Regions from separate parts of the Homo sapiens genome. Here region 2 is linked to region 1. Evidence: fine-mapped expression QTL. Tissue or cell type: whole blood. Region 1 holds a variant in brackets; the other region holds the start of a gene. All regions are shown on one strand. Distances are from middle to middle.

Region 1 (9,605 bases):
TATGTTTTATTTATAAGTCAGGAAATTGTAGAATACTAGAGCAATATCTCCATCCAAAGAAGTTAAAAATGATTTTTGGGTGCTCCCTGGTGGGATGACAAGTTTTCCGGCACATTTATGCGAAAGCAGGTGGGTAGGTTAGCTGGGAGAATGGAGGTGGTGGTGGCAGCGAACTCTTAGTTCCCAAAGAGGCTGAAAACCTCAGTGGCTTTTAAGTAGAGCCTGCCTGCAGCCCACTCTTTTCTATTTAAAATTAGATTATTGTGAAACATTTCACCATATAGATGGAATGACCTATTTCAAAGGGTGCTTAAGCTAGATTATATTAAAGAGGCTTTACCATAGTCAACAGTTATTGAGTTGATTATGCTGTGGTATGGATGTCAGTGTTAGAAAATCAATGGTATTCTGTAGAACTTTAAACATGTGAATATTTGTGATTTAATATTCTTCTGTGGGGCAACTAGGAGCCTTATTGAGATAAGTGGGCAGGGCTACTCGAGTCCTCTTGTTGTTCCATGAAAAATTATATTCTTACTAAAAATTGGCCGGGTGTGTTGGCTCACGCCTGTAATCCTAGCACTTTGGGAGACTGAGGTGGGTAGATCACGAGGTCAGGAGTTCGAGACCACCCTGACCAACATGATGAAACTCTGTCTGTACTGAAAATACAAAATTAGCCGGGCGTGGTGGCACATGACTGTAATCCCAGTTACTTGAGAGACTGAAGCAGGAGAATCGCTTGAACCCAGGAGGTGGAGGTTGCAATGAGCTGAAATCGCACCATTGCACTCTAGCCTGGGCAACAAGAGTGAAACTCTGTCTCAAAAAAAAAAAAAAAAAATCTGGTGAAGATTGGGCTGGGCCACTGTGGAGTTGCTCTCAATATAAACTTTGTGCCTCTCATGCAGTGGTGGTGTGACTGGCAGTGCCAAGAGTGACACTTGATTGCCTGGTCATTAGCTCCTGCCCTGGGTTGAATTTTAGCATCTCACCGTATCTACGTCTGTGAGGCGGTGAGCCTCACACCTGAGTCTACGCTGTTTTCCTTTGTTACGAGGTCTCTTCGTCAACTTGGGTTGCTGCAACAAAGCACCATAGACTGGGTACTTATTCAGAATGGAAGTTTATTCCTCACAGTTCTAGAAGTCCAAGATCTTTTACAGAGTGGAAATTTATTTCTCACAGTTCTGGAGGCTGGAAGCCCAGGATCAGGGCGCTAGCATGGTGGGGTTCTGGCCCGGGCCCTCTTCCAGGATGCAGACTGTAGACTTCTCTCTGTGTCCTTACATGGAGGAAAAAGGCACAAGAGAGCTCTTGAGGTCCTTTTTATAGGACACTAATCCCATTCATGAGGACTCCACCCTCGTGATCTAATCACCCCACCAAAGCCCCACTTCCTGCGCCATTCCACTGGGAGCTAGGATTTTAACATTTGGTAATACTTAATTAATAGATCTACAAAATCAACTATCAGTGTATGTATCCAGCTTGGTTCTCTCTCCATGACTCCACGCTGCTATTCATCTCTACCTGACGTCACCACTGGGTTGTCCAGAGACAGTCTCCCACAGTACACTGAAGTCTGCGTGCCATCTGTCCCCACGCCCGCTCTGTCCCACATCCTGTCGCTCTCATTTGATGGCAACTGCATCCTCTCAGCTGCTAGGGCCGAAACTCTGGGGTCATCCTGGACTCTTTTTCTATTCAACCTCACCTCCATTCTAACAGCAAATCTTCCTTTCCAGAATCCAAATTCGCCTCCCCAGCTGCTGCCCCCACCCTGGTGTGACACCATCCTTGCCTGCCTGGCCCCACAGTGGTCTCCCATCAGCCCCCTTCCTCCACCCCATTCTTCTAGAGCCTGTTTCCCACCCAGCAGCCAGAGTGGATGCAGATGATTGGCAGCCGATGGCTCAGGACACTCCCCCTACTCAGGGGGTCCCCAGGCCCCTGTCCACGGTCTCTGAGACCTCCTGTTGCCTCCTGGACCCGGGTTACTCCTCCTCTTCTCACTCACTCTGCTCTAGCCCTGCCGGCCAATGGGCTGCTCCCTGGATGCACCAGGCACAGTCCTGAGTTGGGGCCCTTGCTTGAGCTGTTTCCTCTACTGGGGCATTTTCCCCTCTCTGTGTCCCTGTGGCCCACTGCCTTGCCTCTTTCACACACGGACCCCAACATCACCTCTGCCAAGCCCAGCCTGACCACTCTATTCCCTAGAGAGCTGCACCCGCCCTGCACACACCTTTTTTACCCCATCGCCGTCTGCCGTGCTCTGTCGTTTATTTCTCTACGAGCCCCATAGTTGGTGTGTTTCCCTCCCTGGAGAAAGCACACCCCAGGAGGGCTGAGACCTTAGCAGTTCACTGATGTTTTCACGTCTAGGCCCTCACTCGAGTCAGTGCTCAACACACATTTGAGAAGGATCGAGCGGCTGGCTCACTCTAAACCATCTCTGAGAATTGGGACTCCAGGTCCCTGTCATTGCCTTGTCCAGCCCCCTGGAGGGTAGTGGGTGCCCCTCGGGGTCCCCAGTGCTGACCCACCATGCTCCGACTCTGCCCCTCTGACCCGCTTCCCCTCTTCATTTCTAGACCGGCCTTATTGTCGCCTGCTACCACGGCTTTGTGGATACCGTGGTGGCCTTAGCAGAGTGCCCCCACGTTGACGTCAACTGGCAGGACAGCGAGGGGAACACAGCCCTAATCACAGCTGCACAGGCAGGTAAGAGCTGGCTTTCCCCTTTCCTCTCAGAGCCGTGGCCAGAGCACCGCCGCCGGGCAGCCCGGGCTCCCGTTGCGATGCAGTCAGGATGGAAATGATCAGAGACCATGTCCTGCTACCAAGGGGTGCCAGGGAAGGGCTGATTGCTGTGACCACACGCTATGCATTTACCCACTTGTTCAGAATTCAGTATGGGCAGATCAAGCTCCGATACTGCCCAAAGTTTTTGAATATGAATCTGTACCAGAAAGCCACCCTTGTCACCGCTTCACCTGAAGCCTCACACTCCATCCTGCTCCCGAAGACTGGGGGTGGCACGAGGCTGGCAGACCCACCAGTGGAAGAGACACAATCATGTGTCTCAGTGATAGTTAATCATGAAAGTAGACACGTGTAGAAGGTGACTTTGCACTTCACCTGTAGAGTTAAAGAAACGCCAGGAACTGTTTCTGAGAGCTGTTAGAGTATCCGTGTAACAAGCTGAGATGAAGTCAGTGGGAGCATCTTGTGAGCGGGTATCCAAGCATGTGGCCCTCAGCCCATCAGTCATCAAGAAGACAGTGCTTATGTCAATATTGCCAAGTGCATTGCGACTCTCCTGCTTTGGAACTGTATCCAGACATTTTTTTGAGGACAGACATGAAACCTATGCTTGCCTCTTCATAATCACACTTCATTTGGAACAGTGGTCTTGACCAGGTTTATCACTGACCCCTTTCACATTTCTTTGCCTCCAAAGATTCTGTCTGTTTCATCGGTCAAGTTCTCAGTTGCAAGCAAAGAAGCTGCCTGCAGCTGAGCCAGGAAGAACAGGCGCTTGTGTGTTGAAGGAAGGAGGGGAAGCTTACACGGTTGTCGGGTTGTTGAGAATCCCACTCAGGGCCTGGAAACTGGAGGAAGTGCCCCCGACCACACTGTATGTTGATTCTGGTTGGGAAATGGCTGTTGCTGTCACCAAAAGGAGACCTCCTTGTCCCTTGTTGCTTCACAAGCTCCTGGACCAAAGCCACCCTGGGTGGATCTGATGGGTGGGGGGCCAGGGAGGCTGGAAAACCAGTGTTTGACAGTTTCATCCCCTGTGGTGGGAGTGGTCTGGGCACCCTACTTTTCAATCAAGACGAATAGAGTGGGGGAACTCTTCAAACTTAGAAAGGGCCAGGGGCTGTGCTAACATGTGTTCACCTCCTCAGGTTTCGAAGCGTGAGGCATCACTTCCATGGAGGGTTCCAGGCTTTGAAAACCTAGCAAGAGTGTGAAAGGGCTTTGTAAGGCATTCAGTGATTCGTTTCCTCTCGTGGGCCAGCTGCCATGTCAGGGACCAAGGATACAGAAGTGCAGGGCAGCCCCGTCCTTGAGTAATTCTGCAGCTCATGGGACAGAGAAACACACGAAGCCCAGCACCATCTGTCTGCCGGAGCTTGGTGCTGTGGGATGAGAACACTCTATCTAGCCTGAAGTTCATGATAAGGTCTTGCAAGAAGGGGATTTGAGCTGGGGCTGAGAGGGAGCCGGGCAGTTCTCAGGAATGGCGAGTCTTAGGGACAGTGTAGGTGGGCATGGCTGTAGGATGGCGTGTGTCTAGGAGAGATGAGGGAAGGATGGGGACCAGACCATTAAGGGTCTAAGCCCAATGCAAGGGAATGTATTTCAGTAGCGTGAGGCTGCGTGAGTGGTGACAGGGGTGAGAGGATCCCAGGGGCGTAGCAGAGGGCTCAGAGCACAGGGAAGGGCCGGGAGCTGTGTGGCTAGAAACACAGTTGGCGGTGGTGGTGATGCGGGCCATGGAGGAGAGCTGGGGGTCTAGGATGGCTTTGGGCTTTGGGACAGGGGATAACACCAACTGCAAAGGGCATATAAGTAAAAGAAGATGAATGGGAGGAACATTGGTTTTGAGCTGGCTATCATGACTTTGAAATGCTCTGAGACCTCTAAGTAAAGAGGTCTCCATGGCAAGTCAGGAAGAGAAGGAGCTCCAAAATCTGGTCCCTGCTAGAAATACAGATGAGGGACAGGTGTTGCTGGTGAGAGCTGGGACAAGGATTAGGTCATGACAATATGAGAATGTACGATAAGAGGGGATTTCTTTTCTTACTGATCTGCCAGAGCTCTTTGTGCGTTAGAGATAATAGCTGTGCTTTGATACCCATGAGGTGCTTTCCAGAGTCTTGCCTGTTTGCAGGTGTTTTGATTTTATATTCACCCATGATTGTTTCTTCAGAGTCAGGAGCACATCGTATATTTTTGGCAAGAATATGGCATTGGCCATGATATGTCCTTGGTGTGTCCTATCAGGACACATACTGCCAGTGTGTCCTGGTGTGGGTGATGCTAAATTTGACGAACTGCTTACATTTCTCCATTTTAAAGGCAGATATTTCCCCTCTGTAATTAGTAAGTAATCTGCAAGGTGATACTTAGAGATTGTATGAATATCCTGTTTCCCCACCAGTTTTTGCCATTGATAATCCTTTTCTGAATCATTTATTTTACACTTATTATCTGATATTTTTCTATAAAGAAGAGCTTTCCTTTAGCCCCACCCTTTTTTTGGTACCATTACTCATTTTTTAAAAATCTCGTGTGTTCTACTTCAATAAC[G/A]CCTTTGTTCTTTTCAGTGCTGAAGTTATCCCAAACCCAGCCAGTTGGTAACCCTGAAGATGGCTCCAGTGTCCTTTTGTCATATTTCTGTCAGTTTTGAGTATTTTCTTGATTTATGGCACACCAAAGTGTTCCACATTCTCCCTGGACTTTCCCAGTCCCTGTCTGTAACCAGCTGTATCTTCAAGGAATGATAGTTCTTTTTTTAGTGAGGAATGGTATTTAGAAACCAAAATCTGGACTCTAGCTGTGCTCATTCACACTAAATGTTATTGCTTCTAGGCATTTCAGTGAGCAGAGTTAGAAAAAAAAATATTTAAAAAATAAGGATACCTCCAATCCAAATGCAACACCATAGTATTCCTCCTCTTCACCCTTTCCATATGCTTCCCCCATTCTTTGTCGGCAAGAAACCTGGTTTGCAGCAATCACAATGCATTTACCCATTTTCCTGTCCTACGACAAATGTGCACAAAGTGGTGATACTAAAGGATAATTTTCAAAAGCTTAAAAATTTGACTCTTAGGTGGACAGAAAGTGAAAACTCATTAATTAGTGATGGGCTAGTAATTAGTTAAGGCCAGTTCAAAGGAAATTTGAAGAACAGGCACATAGAGGCAATCACAAATGCTGAAATACATCTGCTAATAGATGCAAAACTGGTTAATATCCTATAAGGCAATAGAATATAATGTTGTGGGTTATCTTTTCTATAAGGTGATGTTATGGACTGAATGTTTATGTCCTCCCCCTCAAATTCATATGTTAAAACCCCAACTCCCAATGTGATGCATTAGAAGGTGGGGATTTGGGGAAGTAATTAAGTTTAGATGAGATCATGAGAGTAGGGCCACCATGATGGGATTAGTGTCCTTATAAGAAGAGGAAGAGACCAGAGCTCGCTCCTTCCCCACCATGTAAGGACACAGTGAGAAGACAGCTGCCTGCAAACAGGAGGAGGAGCCTCCAGAACTGTGAGAAATAAATGTCTATTGTTTAAGCCACCTAGTCTATGGTATTTTGTCATAGCAGCCTGAGCTATAACAGGAAGTAAATTATATCTCTACCAGATACAATGCAATTGCCTTGCTGTGGACAATCAGTTTTACAGCTTAACTTCTAACCTTGTAGAGTTGTGGAGCAGCCTAGGAACTGAATACTGCCAGAGGGTCCCCTGGACAGCACCCAGAACCCCACATCCAGCACCAGCACTTCCCTGGAGGGAAAAGAGACCCAGTCACCTCATTAGCTCAGTTTCCAGCTATGAACAGTTTTTTTTTAACCAAAGAATCAGAAATTAGAATACCACCACTGCTACCAGCATCAGACCTAAGTAAAAGCCCATATTTCTTTGTGGTTGTTTTCTTCCAACATATTCTACCAAAAGTTATTGGTCTTATAGCACCATATTCAAAAACGCGGTTAAATTTTTTTAACTTTATGCAGTCTCTCCAGATTTCAAATTGCTTCCCTTTCCACAAATGCTTATGTTTTTCACTGAGTCAGTGACCTATTGAATTTTTCTAAGAATATGGATTGTTAAAATTTGAAAAATGTTCTTTTGCTTCTTGCAATAAACCAATTTCATTTTTTAAATTGTTTCCTAGGCACTAGACAACCGGGGAGCAATCGATCTATTTCAGATGAAGATGCTGCCCTGAAACCTGTAGCCCAGCCCCTTCTTTTTGAATCTCACTGTCTTTACAGTGATCCAGGGTTGTTTTTTGTTTTTGCTTTATTTTATTTTATTTTTTTTTTTTTCTGGCTTGCTCATTCTTCTGCAGGGACTGTGCTCATCCTTCTCTGGTTTATTTTAAGTCAAGGATGACACAGGTCCTCTTGGAGATTGGAGGGCTCTCTGGCAAAGGAAGAAGGAAAGGGCTCCAGCTGATTTCCATCCAGGCTCAGTGCCCAGCAGCCTGGGGCGTGGTGGGAAGAACTCGGGTCCAGGTGCAGGCCCCGCAGCCACTCCCCTCCTGGGCTGTGTAGTTTTACTTCCAAGTTGAGTGTGGCATGGGAGCCTGTAACAACCAAGGAGCAGCCCCCACCCTTTGCCTGGTGGGACCTCAGGGGGAAGGTGGCCTCGGGAGCTTAGTGCCCTCCCTGGCCTCATGTGCCTGGAGTGTTGAAAAATGGCATCAGTGGGTCTCAAAGCGTCCCCATAGACCACCTCTCCTTTTCTGCCCTTCTATCTGTGGGGCATTGCCGGAATTTTGCAGGGTTCACTGAATTAGGTGTAATACCCCATCCTCCTCATCAACAGAGGCCTGTCCCTGCCATCTTCCTTAAGGAACAGAAATTGGGTGGTGTCCCTCGATGGTTCTAGTCACACTCCTGGCTTCTCTCTGTTGCCTTTGGTCACAGATGGTGTCTTCATCTGCTTAGGCTGTGATAAAGGAAATAAGCAGCTCTCTGGGGCCTCTTTTGTGAGGGCACTAATCCCACCACGAGGACCCCTCCGTCAGGACCTAATCACCTCCGAAAGCCACCTGCTGTAGTGTCATCCTGGAGGCAGGATTTTCGCACAGGAATTTCGGAGGACAGAAACATTCAGACTGTGGCAGGTGGGAAGCTGGATAGGAGGGAAGATTCCTGTGTTCTCAGCTCTCTTGGGAGCTGGCCCACCCAGGGGTAGCCGTGCTGCCAGACAGAGCTGGAGTCCAAGTCAGGTAGCAGGATCGGGTGGCCGGGGTATGTACCAGGGTCTGGGCTATCCTGAGGGCAGCATCACAGCTGGAAACCTGCCTGGGTGGACAGGAGGAGGCGGGCAGAGGCCTCAGCCATTATCCTGCTTCCTCCACTTGGCCTGGCTGATGTTCTTGGAGGCTGATTTTAAAATACAATACACAGTGTTTGGGGGGAAAATGACCCCACATGAGCAAGGAAATTAGAGGTGAATACCTCTTCCACCTCACTGTCAGCCCTCTCTTCAGTCTGCTCTCTGGAGATAACTGTTGTTAATGATTTGATGCCTAGATGGGTTTACTCTGCCTTTTCAATTTAAATAAAATCATTATTATAATGTATTTTTTCTTTACTTCTTGTTTTCTTTCGTTCTTTCTTTCTTTTCTTTTTTTTTTTTTTTTTGAGTCTGAGTCTTGCTCTATCGCCCAGGCTGGGGTGCAGTGGCACAATCTCAGCTCTCTACAACCTCTGCTTCCCAGGTTCAAGCGATTCTCTTGCCTCAGCCTCCCGAGTAGCTGAGATTATAGGCGCCAGTCACCGTGCCCAGCTACTTCTTGTATTTTCAGCAGAGGCGGGGTTTCACCATGTAGGCCAGACTGGTTTTGAACTCCTGACCTCAAGTGATCCGCCCACCTTGGCCTCCCAAAGTGCTGGAATTACAGGCGTGAGCCGCCGGGCCTGGCCTTTTTTTTCTTTTTTACTGGCTTTTGTTATCTTCCCCTACTTACTGATTTGCTTGAGCTCTCTGTGGCCGCCACTGTGTGCACCCACCCTCTGGCCTGGGCTCTGATCCCTGGACACCCAACCTAGGCTGCTGCCTGAGGCTTTGGGACTGAATTGTTGAGGTTGCATACGGAGGCAGAGGGGAGAGGGACTTTACACCATTTAAACAAACACAGATTAAAAAGCTTCCTTGTGTGTGTCTTAATTGCCTCAATGTGCCGAAGAGATTTTCCCTAATTTCTTTCTGAACCTCCAGGGGCTGCCCCTGTCCCCATGGGCATAGTTTCCTTAGACACTGGCTCCCAATCTTGCGCCTCCGGCGTCAGCATCACCTGGGCTGGCTCATGTGAGCATTAACACAGATCTGGTGGAAACACAGACTGCCAGGCCCTGCCCCTGGAGTCTTTCTTTGAATAGGCCTGGGGTGGGGCCCAAGAATGAGCAGATCAACAGGTTTCCTGGTGAGGCTGATGCCACTGGCCCAGGGACCCCACATTGAGGATGGAGAGCTTTGAAGATTTTATGCCTGATGACGGCAAAGGACCCCTCTCAGTGGGCACTGAAGACCAGCAGAGTCACAGACCCCACGAGAGATGTTGTCAGACAGACACAGAGGCATCACGGAATTAAAGTGAAAATGAGGAAGGCAGGTGAGCATGTGTTCATGACTTTCCTGTGCTGTTTTGCCAAAGAGGCTGTTTAGGCCCAATCAGGTGATGTCCCATTTTAATCAATTTCATAACCAGTTTTATTTCTTTGATGATTTGTTAATTTCAAAAGCTGTCCATGCATATTTGCTTACAGCCAAAAATGACTACAAAAGTATTATCAGGGAGGAAGAAAAAGATCCCTTCTCTGTCTTCCAAATATTCCAG
Region 2 (9,605 bases), 57 kb before region 1:
TTCAGGACACTCTAGGTTGCTCCCACGAGTGTGGGAATCAACTCAGAGAAATTTGCAAAAACTCCAAAACAAATCATTTTGGTTTTTAAAAACATGAGTGTTTTAAAACTGTTTTTTAAAAAATGAGTGACTAAGAGATGTCCCGTTCCCCACTCACTTCTTCTCTCGTAGGCAGTGGGAGAGCTGGAAGAGCCTGTTACAAACCTCAGCCCATTAGCATCTCCCAGCTCTGTCTTTTGAGAAGATGACTGAGAGGAAGGTGGTATTGAGAAAACAAAGCATCCAGCCTTTGTGAAGCTGAGCCTTAAGGTCCCCTCTCCAGCCCTGGCTGACCCCAGACCCTCGTTTTCTTCTCTGGCATCCAACTTCAAGGATTGGCCTGTTTCCCTTTAACTATAGCTACCACTCAGCTCACTCGCTGAAGAAGGCAGAGCCCACGCCTCCTGGCACAGTTTCCCTTCGGCTACCTAAGGCAAGCGAATGAGTCTTTTTCATCGTAATGAGCTGTATTTCCCTCACTATGGAACAACAGGGGCTAAACAAATTAATAAATATGCTCAGCTTTTCCTTCTTGGTTTGTGAATTCTCTCTACGTTTTGGCTATCATCCTAACCACTTGCCACAAGCAGCACAATTAATGTTTTTTCTGCAATTAATGTTTTTTCCCCATTTAGCTTGCTCTTTCTTTCTTTTCTTTCTTTTCTCTCTCTCTCTCTCTCTTTCTGTGCTGGGATTACAGGCATGAACCACCGCGCCCGGTCGAGTTTTTTTCTTAATATGCTGTTTTGCTGAACTGAGTTTTAGTTCCTAGTAACAGAGACTAACTCTGGAAAGCTTTCGTCAACGACAATGAAAACAACAGCAGCAAAAGAAATTATCAGACGGTTGTTATCTCATGAGATCTACTTTGGATTAGTGCTGTCATGTTCCCCTCCAAGCATTCACACAGGAATGTGGTCATGTCATTTCTAGAACAGTATGAAGACAAGTAGGATCTTTACAGCCCTGAGTCTTCCCATCTGAGCTTGAGGTCTGGCTCTCCCAGTCTCTCTCACTGAGAACAATTTTTACACATAATACTGGGGTTTAAAAAGCTCAAGCCACTTGAGGTGGGATGTTTTTCTGAGGAAATACCTGGACAAGGGTGCATTTGTGTCCACTAAGGAAAATGTTGGAAATACCCTAAACATCAAGAATAGGAGATTGGTACCCCCACAGTAACAGACATTCAAAATCTAGAACTATTATCATTGTAACTTAGCAGTGGTAAAGCCATAATTGGAAGCCAGCCTGTCTGATATCACTATCTGGTCTTCACCCCAAGCTGCACTGCCTTCTATACACATTTCTCATTCACTTCACCTGGGCTAGCTCTCTCGGCAAATAAGGCAATGAATCTGGAGAAGCAGGTCCTACAGAACAATTTATATCAAGGCGAATGGATACTTTAATTTTCATACTAATGAAAGTTAACACTGTTGCTAAATTCCAGACAATGTGAGAAGGTTTTAAATCACTCTCTCCTTCAGTTCTTCATTTAGCCTTGGGAGATGGGAACTGGTTATTTTATTTTCTTCTTTGGTGAGGGATGGCGTCTCACTCTGTCATCCAGGCTGGAGTACAGTGGCACAATCTCAGCTCACTGCAACCTCCGCCTCCCAGGTTCAAGCAATTCTCCTGCCTTAGCCTCCCGAGCAGTGGGGAATATAGGCATGCAGCACCATATCTGGCTAATTTTTGTATTTTTAGTAGAGATGGGGTTTCACCATGTTGGCCAGATTGGTCTCGAACTCCTGACCTCAAGTGATCTGCCCACCTTGGCCTCCCAAAGTGCTGGAGCTAGTTATTTTATGAACACTGTGGTGCACTTGTGTGCTCCTCCACCACTAGGTTCCCCCTGCCTCCCTCCTTCCAAACCAAGGTGGGGCAGGCCCTATAGGTGCATGCAGTTTTCTCTCTCTTCAAGATAAACATACTGCTTGTAATTTTGAAAGGCATGTTACAGACATATAACTGAGCTAGTGCTGAATTTTTAAAAAATGGTCCAAAGACAAATTATTCAACTAAATGAACAAATTGTGTAATTGCTATGTATATCTTTCAAAATCATAACAAAATAATTCATTGAAACTTGACAGTCGGATAAAATATAATTTCTCAGTACTTCTCTTTTTGTTTTGAGACAGGGTCTCACTCTGTTGCCCAGGCTGGAATGCAGTGGCACCATCAGGGCTCACTGCAGCCTCGACTTCCCCCTCAAGTAGCTGGGACTGCAGGCACACGCCACCACACTAGGCTATATTTTGTATGTTTTGCAGAGATGGGGTTTCACCACGTTGCCCAGGTTGGGCTTGAACTCCTGGGGCTCAAGGGATCCGCTAGACTCAACCTCCCAAAGTTTTGAAATTACAGGTGTGAGCCACCACACCTGGCCTCAGAATATTAATTTAAGTTATCCTGAGTCGGCAGTTTTGATAAGCTACTTTCTCCTACCTATGCAGATTTTGTACATATAATAAATGTTGGCTTTACTAAAAATGCCTATGCCTGATTTTGTGTCTTTTTTTTTTTTTTTGGTGTTTTGTTTTGTTTTGTTTTTGAGACGGGGTCTCGCTCTGTCGCCCAGGCTGGAGTGCAGTGGCACAATCTCTGCTCACTGCAAGCTCCGCCTCCCGGGTTCACGCCATTCTCCAGCCTCAGCCTCCCCAGTAGCTGGGGCTACAGGCGCCCGCCACTGCGCCCAGCTAATTTTGTTTTTGTATTTTTGGTAGAGACAGGGTTTCACCATGTTAGCCAGGATGGTCTCGATCTCCTGACCTCGTGATCCGCCCGCCTCGGACTCCCAAAATGCTGGGATTACAGGCGTGAGCCACCGCGCCCGGTCGATTTTGTGTTTCTTTTAGCCCATCTTCCAGAAATGTCCAGACTCTACTGTCTTTGTTGTAAAAGAAGCATATTTTATTTTTTATTTATTGTTTCTTCTTAGCGGTTTATTTTTAAAAGACAGGAAAATGATCAGCTTGCATCCTGAATCGGACCACTTACTTATAAACGATAGTTCTTCTTTGAAGCAGACGATGACATTTTAGTTTATATTTAAGGGGAAACACATTCAAATGCTATTTGGACTCAAATTTCTAAGGAAGAAAAGGAAGTGGTAAACTCTGAAGATAGAACCTCAATTCCCTTGCTGAGTGACGCGGTCAATGAGCACCAATCGCCTACGGGAGGCCAGAAAAGGCTGCGTGGTGCTCCCCTCTCAGGGCCTGGCCCTGTCCACCTGGGCCTTGGTGACCCGCAGCCGGGACTCTTGCTGTAAAGTGACGCAGTGCTCTCCCTGGGAGGACAGTGGGTCCAGCAAACCCAACTCAGCCCTCAGGGGGCACTTGAAATTGTAACTACCCCAGGCCTTTGGAAACAACCCTCAACCTTGAAAGGGGAAATTCCCAGTGGGAATTGATGCAAACTGTGGTCAGTTACACAAAAAGGTAGAGTTTACTGTAATCTGGGGGCTATTTTTGGTTGCAGAAAGAATCCCCGGAGTAGAGAAGGAGGCCAGCGAGTCTCAGTTCGCTGCTCGCTCAGAGCCGCCCAGGTGCGAGGGCGTCTTCACCAGAAATCGGTGCTCCCGCGCGCCCCACCCTCCGGGGCCCTGCAGATGCCGGGTCGGGGGCCGCCAGCAGGCCCTTTGGCTCCTGCTGGAGACACTGGAAGACCAGGCGACCAGGACAGCGGGTCGGGCCAGTGCGGTGTGACACGAGGGCTCGAGCGGCTTCGCAGTTTAAACGTGTCCTCATCCTACACCTCCCACGGCTGTTTCGGATTCGGTGCCCTCGTGCCCCTCAGCTTGCCCAGCGGCACGTGGGCCTCAAGCCTGGTCCCCAGCGGCTGCGCCAGCCTAGCTGTGTTCACCTTGGGGCCGCGAGGGCCTCCCACCGGCTGGCAGCTGGTGGACACGCTGTCAAGATCGGGGGAAAAAAAGGAAGGAAGGAGGCTAGGGGGACACAGGGCTGGTGGCCTCCGCAGTCTTTGACCTGCGACGGGCGCGAGCGCACCTCCGCGCCTTTGCGCAGAGACCTTCCCCCAAGATTGGCTCACGACGCCTCCTACCCCGAAGTCAAGGGCTCCCTGTGGCAAATCCTCACACGCCCTCCTCCTCCCCGCCCATCCCCGGCGCCAGGACTGACGGGGAGAGGGCAAGGCCGGGCCAGAGGGGCTGTGGGCCTGGACTGCGGCTGTCGCCCGCGGCCCTGCTCTTTTGGGCAGCCAGACGTGGGGTCAGCGCCCAGTCGCAGCCTCCGGGGGTGAGTCCGCAGATCCCCGCACGTGACACAGGCCAGGCATGGGGACGGGGAGTTCCTCGTCGTCCGTTCCCACTCAGATGCTCCCTGAGGTTCCGGAACACCCCGCCCCCCATCCCAGGATCTGACCAACCCTCAAGCCACGGCCGGCCCCGGTTCCGCGAGACGGGGGACTCTGAGGATTGTCCTCCCTTCCGGGCTGGGACTCCCCCACAGCAGCCGACCGCCCCCAGTTCAGAGTGGCCCGGCCCGCAGCGCTCCCCGGGCACAGGTCCCAGGTGGACGGCTCCGCTCCCGCGCCCGGCTCCTCTGCCCGCCAAGCGCCCCGGGGATTCCCCGGCCTCCAAGCGGCCGCGGCCGGGTGGAGTCAGCCCCGAAGCCCGGGATCCCCCGAAGGGAGAAAACCCGCTCTGCTCCTCTGAAGCGGCGGGAGAAACCGGCCCCACCCAGGTCCGGGGGCCCGACGCCCTCGGCGGAGGCCGGCTCCAGGGGTCCGAGGTTCCCGAAGCTGGAGGCCGGCTCCGCCCCGGCGTCCCCCCGCCGCCACCTCCGCCCCCATCCCGCGGGCCGGCGGAGGGAGGGGCGGGGCCGCTTGCCGCCCGCGACTCGGGTTCGGCTTCTTTAGTGATTGCTTCTGCTTCTCCCGCGCCAGCTGTCCCCAGCTCTGGGGCAACGCTGCCAGGTGCCCAGTCCCCGCGCTCGAGAGAGCGCCTGCCTGGCTCTGAACTCTGGCCAGGAAGGGGCGCGAGGGGAAGGCCCCGGGGGAAGGCGTGTCCCCGCGCCCCGCCCCGCCCCGCCTCGGAAAGCCCCCGCGGTCCCGCCCACCCCAGGGGCTCGCTCAGCCTCCGGAGACTTTTTTCTTTGAGCGCAGCCGCCTGGTGCCGGTTTCCGCCGAGCTGGAGCGCGCGGGCCACGGCTTCTCTGGGGACGCAGAAGCGAGAAGCGGGGACCTCGGCGCGCGCCCCGCGTCCCGCTCTTCCTGCCCGCGCCCCGGCCCCCGGCCCGCGCCCCGGCCGCCGGCATGGTGCTGCTGGCCGGGACCGGGCCGGAGGGCGGCGGGGCGCGCTGCATGACCCCACCACCGCCGTCCCCACCCCGGGGCGCGCAGGTCGAGGAGGACCCCGCTGACTACGAAGAGTTTGAGGACTTCTCGAGTCTGCCAGACACCCGCAGCATCGCCTCGGACGACTCTTTCTACCCTTTCGAGGACGAGGAGGAGCACGGCGTCGAGAGCGCGGAGAGCGTCCCGGAGGGCGTCCCGGAAAGCGTCCCGGAGACGGCGACCCTCCTGCGCGCCGCCTGCGCCAACAACGTGGGGCTGCTGCGGACGCTGGTGCGGCGCGGGGTGAGCGTCGAGGAGGCGCAGGAGACTGACCGCAACGGCAGGGTAAGCGGGCGTCCCCGCAGGATTTGAGCCCCCTCACTGCCCCCACTCCCCTCCTCCCCACCACATCCCCGCGCCTCCCAGCTCCTGGCTCCGGACCGGTCCCTCGGTCACTCAGCCGCCGCCCAGAGCGCCTTTTCCCCGCTGTTTGGGAGCGCGGTGCCCTGGGTGGCTTCCCCGTCTCAGGCTGGGGGACGCGGTGCGGGGAGGGAGCAGTCGAGGTGTCAGCGCGGCAGAAACGCCAGTCCGGCGTCCTCACCGCATCCCCTTCTCGTTTACCGGTCCCCGTGGACCTCCTGACTGAATTCGCGCTGGCTGCCCGTGCTGCAATCCAGGATGGGCTTCTTGCGGCCCGGTCCCCTCCTGACTATTACCTTTCCCCAGGTCCCTGGCAGGGGACCATTCCTCCTCCCCTGCAGGAGACAGCCCCTCCTGCCCAGCGCCCCATTTGGCCCCTGGGCCCCTCGCGCCGCCCTTGTCCTAACACGCTGGGGCGCAGATCGGCTCCTCCAGCCGCAATGATTTGGAAGCAACAGTTTCTTCCCTCGCCGGGACAGCTTGGTCCCCTACCCCACCTCCGCTGAGCTTTGTGGCCCGCGCCGCGACCAGCCAACGTGATCTCTGACTGGTCTGTCCGCAGGTCACCTTCGCGAGCCAATGCCAGCCGGGGCTCCCCAGAGTCAGGGCATAGGGAGAGCCCCAGAGCCGCGGGCATCCACCCGGGTAGGGCAGGAGGCGTGGAGGCAGGCACAGGCTATCCTTTCGTTATGACCAGATTCAGAGAAAACGAGATGTTTAGAAAAGAAAAGAAAAGAAAGGAAAAGAAAAAAAGTTGGCTTAAGAAGACCTGAGAAGGACTGGCTGGTGGAACACCTTCCACCAAGCAAAGCACTTCAAGGGAAAACTGCAGAGTGACCACGGTGGCCAAGTTCCCCGTAGTCTGTGCTCAGTGGGCAAATGGCAGCGTTCTCACCTGATTTTTGTATTGTCCAAGGACCGTGGTATCTGCAGATGCAGCCTAGCACAAATGCACATGCTTTTTGCTCAGGAGCCTGCAGCTGACAGAAAACATGTGCTTTGACTTGGGGACCCGGGTGACCTTGTGCCTTTGGTTTATCCTGCAGTGGGTGGGGCAAGTGGTTTGCCCTGACTGTGGTTTGGGCTGGGCTTAGGTGGATGGGAAGCCCTCCAATGTCACTCTCCCCTTGTACTACATTGCCCCCGTGATTCAATTACCTCCCACCGTGTCCCTCCCACAACACGTGGGAATTCAAGATGAGATTTGGGTGGGGACACAGCCAAACCATATCACACAACATTTGAACTTGGAGGAAGGGTCTGTGCTTGTCATATGTTAGGCAGTGAGACCTGAGGTGGCGTCCCCGTAGGTAGCATCACCTGGAGCCCTGTAGTTCCTGCTGCCATTCCTCTTGCAATGCCTCCTCCCCCAGCCCTGGCGACAGATGCCCTGGCTGGCATGTGATTAGGGCTTGGAGCTCCACCCGAAGTCCTAGGGCCTGTTTCTCAAGTTCTACATTTGGTTTAACTGAGTTTTCAGGCCCAGATGTGTGTAATCAGAAACCTTGCTTTCTGGAAGCCAGTATGGGGGCCCGCTTTAAAGGAAGCCTCACCAAGCTCATAAAGGAACAGGTGGGGTGGGCCTCTCCCCCTGTCCTGGGCAGCCTGGTGGTCTCCAGTGGGCTGGAATGGGCACAGGAGGGGCCTGGCTCGCCCAGTCCCCACTCTAGGGCACCACTGGGCTCAGCTTTATATAATGTTTCCTTTAGGGGCAAAACATAAATGTTTGAAAACAGCTGCATTGAAGAAAACTGACAGCAACGTAAACCATCCCCAGGGGCTCGAGCCTAACAGACTGAGTCTCCAGGCCACACAGCAGAGAGGCAGGGGAGGGCCGTGGTATGGGAGGCTAGCTCCAGCCTCCCAGCAGCTCTCTGCCTCAGTTTCCTCGTCTGTAAAATAGGGATAAGGGCAGCCTCTCCTCTTAGGATGTGAGCATAAAATGGCTTAGTGCCCACAAGGCTCTGGGAAGGCCTGGCCCCAGGCTTGTGTTTACCATCGTGTTTCTCATTCGTCTGCCTTCTCTTGGCTTGGAAGAGAGCACCTTCCAGTTTTATTTTGTTTTGTTTTGTTTTTTGTCTTCTGCCAGGCAAGGCTTTTTCTCTCGCTGCTTTTCTTCCCCTTTGATTACAGCAGAAGTGAAGACTTTGTTTCTCTGTGTCACGTAAAATAATGATGTAGGCCCGGACATAGCCTGCTAACTTAGAGACCCTTGGACTCTTTCATCTTTGGATCAGACGGAGCAGGGCTTGTGTTCTGTGCTTTGTGAGGCCAGTGGGGGGAGCGAGGCAGGAGCCTCCATTCTTTTCATTAGCTTCTCAAGGCTGTTGATCAAACAGCCTCTATCTTCCTGAAAAACAGCTGAAAGAATCAAGTGTGGCAAAGCCCTGATGCCCTGCTCTGTGGTAAATGGAGTGAGTCATTGCCAAAGTGTTTACCGCAGACCTACTGTGCTCCCGCTAGGTACTTTAGCAGACTCAAAACTGAATCTGGCAGTCCCTGCCTTTGAAGAGTCCTAGCCTTTTAGTGAGGAGAAGAACTTGCAGAGGAAGAGCGGCTAGCTGAGACCTAGGAAACTGGGAGACGGACTGCTTTTCACATGACGGTGTCCGGTCTCCCCGACGGCAGTGTGGGTCACTCCCTCTCTGTCTGCAGGCTCCTGGTTTAAGGGCACCTTCCCTGGGAGGCTTTTCTGTCTCCTCTTGTCCAAGCCTACAGAACCTGGAGCTGAGCAAGGGTAATGTAGGCATTCACACATTTAGGGCTGAAATTATAAATAGGATGGTCATTTAGAGAGCAGGTGACGTTTGAGCAGAGACGGCATCTAGGGGAAAGAGGAGTTAGACGGAGGGAACAGTGTGTGCAAAGACTGAGGTGGGAACCTCGTTGGAGCCTGGTCTCCAAGCTTATCATGATTAGTGGCAGTGAAAACCTTAAAGAAGGCCCGGACAGCTTTGGTGCAGTGGAGGGGTAATTGCATTAATGACAGAATGACAGCTCACAGATACAGCCCACAGCCGGCTTTCTAGGAGGAAATGATCTCTAAAGGCGTCTAAACTTTTCTGGGACATGCTTGTTGAGCTCTTCATCTCTGGGCATTTAAGAAGGGAGCTTTGCCTGAGCTGACAGGCATTCCATTTGGTCTGGGTAACTAAGGGTCAGATGTGTTTTGTTTAAGAAAATGCATTCTCTCCTGCCTCCTGAGATTGGTAGAATGTTGGATGTGGCTCAGCACACCATTTTCCTTCTAAAATATTTATTGCTCTAAAAGCATTGCATGATTTAATATGCAACATGTAAATATTTGTCAGATAATTGCCCAATAACATTCAAAGCTTGCTTCCAATGTCTTCTGGATTTATGGTTGTTTTGTTCCTTCTGACTTGAGGCAGTGCAAGCTGCCATAATTCTTTTTCTTAATTCTTCTCTTCCACTTACTATCACCTGAAGTTCACCTTTATGGCCTTGGCGGCTCTTGAGATGACAGTGAAAACACACAAAGTGTGTTGTTTTAATTGTTGCAGAAGGGCAGTTTAAATGTCAGACAGCTCTTGGACTTAATTAGGCCCAAATACATGCTCAATTTAAAATACTGCACTCCTGTCCTGATGGGATTCTGCTTCTGCGTGTTCGTGTTTGTTTTTGAGACTGAGTCTTGCTCTGTCACTCAGGCTGGAGTGCAGTGGCGCAATCTCTGCTCACTGCAACCTCCGCCTCCGGGGTTCAAGTGAATCTCCTGCCTCAGCTTCCCACATACCTGGGATTACAGGCGTGCGCCACCACGCCCGGCTAATTTTTGTATTTTTAGTAGAGACAGGGTTTCATCATGATGGCCAGGCTGG

Evidence for each region.
Region 2: it holds the start of ANKRD33B, and the variant in region 1 is fine-mapped to the expression of ANKRD33B in whole blood (INTERVAL, PIP 0.97).

Annotation. Positions count from the first base shown.
Region 1 is chr5:10,615,739-10,625,343 of GRCh38, forward strand. ANKRD33B (ankyrin repeat domain 33B) reads left to right here. Exons shown (of 4, transcript NM_001164440.2): 2 at 2,595-2,724. Among named protein-coding and RNA genes, the nearest start is that of ANKRD33B, 56 kb to the left of the region's middle. The variant G/A (reference allele first, on the strand shown) is at 5,323.
Region 2 is chr5:10,559,146-10,568,750 of GRCh38, forward strand. ANKRD33B (ankyrin repeat domain 33B) reads left to right here and starts at 4,925. Exons shown (of 4, transcript NM_001164440.2): 1 at 4,925-5,688. The coding sequence starts at 5,323. RefSeq lists silencers at 4,509-5,368, 5,709-5,758, 6,729-6,778 and enhancers at 4,988-5,882, 5,883-6,776, 5,899-6,108, 6,429-6,478, 6,499-6,588 and 3 more.